Regions from separate parts of the Homo sapiens genome. Here region 2 is linked to region 1. The links come from fine-mapping of genetic effects on gene expression. Tissue or cell type: whole blood. Region 1 holds a variant in brackets; the other region holds the start of a gene. All regions are shown on one strand. Distances are between the middles of the regions.

Evidence for each region. PIP is the estimated chance that this variant, and not a neighbour inherited with it, causes the effect.
Region 2: AHR starts here. The variant in region 1 is fine-mapped to the expression of AHR in whole blood (TOPMed, PIP above 0.99). The same link has a PIP of 0.9 or more in blood mononuclear cells.

Annotation. Positions count from the first base shown.
Region 1 is chr7:17,040,349-17,043,116 of GRCh38, forward strand. LOC124901595 (a long non-coding RNA gene) reads right to left here. Exons shown (of 4, transcript XR_007060239.1): 1 at 1-2,768. Among named protein-coding and RNA genes, the nearest start is that of AGR3, 160 kb to the left of the region's middle. The variant G/A (reference allele first, on the strand shown) is at 1,185.
Region 2 is chr7:17,297,478-17,299,977 of GRCh38, forward strand. It overlaps AHR (aryl hydrocarbon receptor), which reads left to right and starts at 1,175. Exons shown (of 11, transcript NM_001621.5): 1 at 1,175-1,852. The coding sequence starts at 1,788. It overlaps LOC101927609 (a long non-coding RNA gene), which reads right to left and starts at 1,843. Exons shown (of 12, transcript XR_007060234.1): 1 at 1,583-1,843. RefSeq lists silencers at 1,450-1,599, 1,650-1,759, 1,800-1,849.

The DNA of each region.
Region 1 (2,768 bases):
GGTAGTGTGTGAGTGTGTGTGTGTGTGTTTGTCTGTGTGATATGATGATGTGCTATGTTTGGACTATGTTTCTGGTCCAGAAAATTTGAGAAAAGTTTAGCACAATGAAGCCAGGAAAGTTTTATCACGCAGGTGACATCAAAATGTGCCTCTTAATGTTTATATTACACACAGTAAGCATTTAGATCACACTTTAAAGTTCACGTTGAAATTGAGGCCAGAATATTTGAGATTAAAATTCATAAGACCTTCCTCTTCTAAGATGTATATTCTTATGTGTTCATCTTCAAAGGAGACCCTATAATTTTACTTCAAACAAATACAGTGATTTAACTTAAAAAGCTGGGATAACGAGTGGTTAATAGGTTTTAGGAATTGTTTAAATATTTTTTATTGTGAATCCGTGTGCTTTAGAAACGTTTGCTCCAAGAACTCTTTCCTTAAAGAGAAGAGGAAAGCATTTGGAAAGCATTTAGGTGGTCTGAAGGACTTCTGGTAATAGTTACTGATACAGGTTGAAGCCGTATTTCCAAGCAAACTATTATAACGATTTGGCAATTGACCAGAAGATAAGAAACCTCTGGTTCATTCTAATTCTTCTATTTCCTGGAATTTCAAGACTCATTCCTTCTAATTCCACTCCAGGAAGTAGAATGATATTTTTAAAACTATCAATAATCCAAATTACCATGAAGAATCCCATTTTTAAAAGCAATTCCTTTCTCTAAACTAAGGAATCTGTTTCTTCATTTTTTTTTTCACTAAAATAAATTTTGGTCATTCCTTCTGATTTCACTGTTAAAGAACTAGCTATGAAATTTGCACAATTTCATACAAAATAAATTTAACAGCAGTAACATAAAAAAGTTATTTTTCCTACCTACATAAACAATTGTAGTTATATTCTTACATGATGTTGATCATAAGAGATAAGAACTAAAAAAAACCAAAACTAACTGGAACAAAAGATTTGATTAGAAATGACAGTTGTTTGAGGGTTTATTTTTGTAGGACAAAAGCTAGCATTTAATTGTTTATTTTACAGTTAGGGAGTTTACATTATGGAGGTATTCATATCTCCATTTCTTTCGTTGTGCTGTGACACACTTCCTGAATATTTCAAACCACTTTGTTTTGCAAGACTACTTTGCATTCTGAAGAGGTTTCCTGCTTAATTTAGTTCC[G/A]TCAACTGATTGCCATGGAAACTCTTGATATCCTTTCCTCTTCCTGGAATGAGACACTGGCTCTGTTTCAAATAGATCTTTTGGCACAGAAATAGAGTATGTTTCATAGAGCAAAATGTGCTGTCAATAAAAGAGGGTCCTTCAGAGGGATCTACTGAATGGACAGGAGCCACAAATACACACATCACTACTGAACAGAAAGGTAGTTGAACAATTAAAACCAGGTAGCAGCATAGTTCAAATCAAAACAAAGTGATGCCTAACCGACTTTTTAATTTTATTCACAAGTAAGTTGAAATCAATGCTTTACTGCATGCCAACTGAGCAAAATCAAAACAGAACAACCAATGATATATTACCCTAAAATTTTATGAGACTGAATCAATCTGAATTTCTCAAGGGCATCTCAAAGCAGATTAAATTGGTGAATGTGAACAGTTGTGCTGGAAAAATAATTTCTATAATTAACTATAACACAAAGATCTACCATTTTTCTTGCCATGGATTTTATTTTAAAAGTACATTTCTCAAGCAATAGTGACTGTAATAAATACATTGGGTCATCCTATTAAGCCCTCCACTTTGAAATGAGGATCATATTCTGGGTTTATTCTACTTATATTTAACAATTTTTAAATATGGAATTTGGAAAGTTAGAGCCAGTTACAATCATGAAAAAGAGAAGAATGATTATGTTTACAGTGTATTTACTACTTTACTTTGTGTATGGATCGCTGAGAAAAAAACTTCAATTGCATGACTATATATGCATGTGTGTTTACAACTGTTGTGGATGACCGTGTGTGTGTTTATGTATTGCATACAGACAGGTAGTTGTCAAAAGTACAGATTAATAGAAAAAGAAGTAGGTGTATATTGGGAGAAAGAGGAAATTCCTTTCTGATGACTCTCTGTAAATTCAAATATATGATAGCATCTTTAAAGTTAGAGTATCATGTGTTAATCTGTTATTTTTCATAATATTCAGGTTTTGCATATCCTTTGGAAAAAATGAGTGGAAGACAGCTATCTCCACCCAAACTTGTAGAGAGCTGTTTTCCTAAGACATTAAAAGTGAGAAGAGGCAAAATTTTGCTTCCTTGTAAACCTTGAATTTAGCAGCAGACACATAATGGTTTCTTTTGATGGCTTGAAGTTTGTCTATATAAAAATCATTGGTTATGATTTTGTTTTTTCTGATTGAGGTGGTAGGCACACATTATTTACTTTTCCCACAGTCAATTTACATCAAGAAAATATGTTGCCCTACAAAGTTTATTTACAATGAAAATTCACGTGCATGGAGAGTACTTCCTAAAAGGAATGCATATTTAGCAAATCTGGAAAAAATAATAAAATAATTGTATAAATTCTAAATATTATAGGTAAGAGATTTTAAAACTCAGTTTATTATTTTTTGGGTCCACTTTGATTATCTAAATTAGAAAAGTATATGGTACCTTCAAATTAGCTACAGCCTTAGCTGATTTGTCAAAATGTATTATAGCAACTCTGTTTTAATATCTCACCATGACAAAGCAGTAAAGCTCTGGTTATCACAGTATATTGCTCACTTTCAGTGTG
Region 2 (2,500 bases), 260 kb after region 1:
CCAGCTATGGTAGAGAACTGCTCCTCCAACTTTATGTACATTTGAATCACCTGGGAGTTCCTGTGAACTTCGGGTTCTGATTTAATAAGGACACCCAAAGAGTCTGCATTTCCTGTAACTCTCAAAAGAAGCTGTGGAGTACTCTGAATAGCAAAGCACTGTAAGTGCTGTTTCTGTTAGTATCTAATCTATTAGTCCTAATCTCCCATTTATGCTTTGGCACTCATTCCCTCCTGCTTTCGGTATCTTAATATCTATCATTCCTTCACTCTTCCCTCAGGTTCCCTACATAGTTTATCTCTACCCCCTCTAAGCCGCTCAGTATCGCCCATTAAAGAACTAAACCAAAACTAGAAAACCCTCATTTAACCCTTCACTCCCCCTACATACAATCTGATGTGTCTCTCATCCACAGCTAAACTTGGAAGAAAAATTGCCTGCTTGAGGATGCCATTTTGTTATCTTCAGCTCAATCCTGTACCCACTTCAATGTTATTTGCAGGCCCATTACCCCAACACTGCATTCACGAAAGTCATCAGTGACTACACATTGAGAAAACAAGAATGACATTTTCAGTTCTCAACTAATTTGAATTTCTCAACAGTATTCAATATTGTTAATTACTCCCAATATTTTTCCACATGGTCCTCCATGACACAATACATAATAGTCCCCTTATTATCTATATTCCTGTCTATTGTAAAGACTTCCCCCGCACACCAAAAAAGGTCAAGGAAACTCCTAGCCTTCAAGTCTCAACTCAAATCTGGCCTTCTGAAGCCTTCCCAACTAGGAAAATATACAGTCCCATTGGTTGTCTACCAGTTGTCTACCAGTTAATTGTAATTCTTAGCCACAAGTTAGCTGACCCACCGTCTCTCAAACAGGTGAAGTTAAGCTCAATATTTGGCATATCTTGATATACTTTGTACAGTCTAGCTACAATAAGTTTGCCTATGCACGAAGATGGCTACCGGCGGGGGGGGGCGTCCTTACGTCCTACGTCATCACGTGCCGGGATGAGGGTGGGGCCCTCAAGGAAGACGGAATGGAATCCAGATGGGCGGGGGCAAGCAGGACGGGGCGGGGCTACGCGGGATCTGGGCGGGGCGGGGCCGGTGAGGGGTCGGGGGTGCTCCTGCTATTCAGCCGGTGCGCGCGGCGGCGGGAGGCAGTGGCTGGGGAGTCCCGTCGACGCTCTGTTCCGAGAGCGTGCCCCGGACCGCCAGCTCAGAACAGGGGCAGCCGTGTAGCCGAACGGAAGCTGGGAGCAGCCGGGACTGGTGGCCCGCGCCCGAGCTCCGCAGGCGGGAAGCACCCTGGATTTAGGAAGTCCCGGGAGCAGCGCGGCGGCACCTCCCTCACCCAAGGGGCCGCGGCGACGGTCACGGGGCGCGGCGCCACCGTGAGCGACCCAGGCCAGGATTCTAAATAGACGGCCCAGGCTCCTCCTCCGCCCGGGCCGCCTCACCTGCGGGCATTGCCGCGCCGCCTCCGCCGGTGTAGACGGCACCTGCGCCGCCTTGCTCGCGGGTCTCCGCCCCTCGCCCACCCTCACTGCGCCAGGCCCAGGCAGCTCACCTGTACTGGCGCGGGCTGCGGAAGCCTGCGTGAGCCGAGGCGTTGAGGCGCGGCGCCCACGCCACTGTCCCGAGAGGACGCAGGTGGAGCGGGCGCGGCTTCGCGGAACCCGGCGCCGGCCGCCGCAGTGGTCCCAGCCTACACCGGGTTCCGGGGACCCGGCCGCCAGTGCCCGGGGAGTAGCCGCCGCCGTCGGCTGGGCACCATGAACAGCAGCAGCGCCAACATCACCTACGCCAGTCGCAAGCGGCGGAAGCCGGTGCAGAAAACGTGAGTGTCCCGAGCGCGTCCTCATCGCGGGGGCTGGGCGCTCAGGCACGCGGGTGCGGGAGGCAGCCCCACCCCGCCCCCAAATCCCTGCGATCCTGGGATTAGGTCCATTCCCGGCACTGCCCGTGGAATCGAGGTTTGGAGGCCGGCTGGGAGACAGAGGACTTGGATTCTCCCGTTTTCAATGATTGCATTTTAAAAATTGTCCTCCCACCCATCCTCTTCCCCCGCACCAGTGCATACACACCCTCTCACATTTGCAACTTTGTTCTTTCTGATTTGGTCCTGATTTGTTGACAGCTCTGATCTGCCTTGGGCTAATGGATTAGTTAGTATAAACCTGTCTTGAAATCTCCTTCCACTTTTCATATCCGCATGGGTTAGGTTAGAGGACGGTCTTAATTCTCATTCTTCGTAGAGTTTGGTAAGGCGAGATGTTTTAAAGAGCTAAACACATGCTGACTTTTACGAAGGGGCTGAGTGCCTCTAAAGGTACTTTTTGGTCCCCACCAACTGGCTTTGTGTTGCGCTCATATTTACTTATTTGGCAGCAATTTTGTAGCGCTCATCGTGACCATATCGGTAAAGTGGATAGAAGTGGTAGCAGGTGGGAGTGGATGCAACGGACAGGATACGGTGGAGGATTTG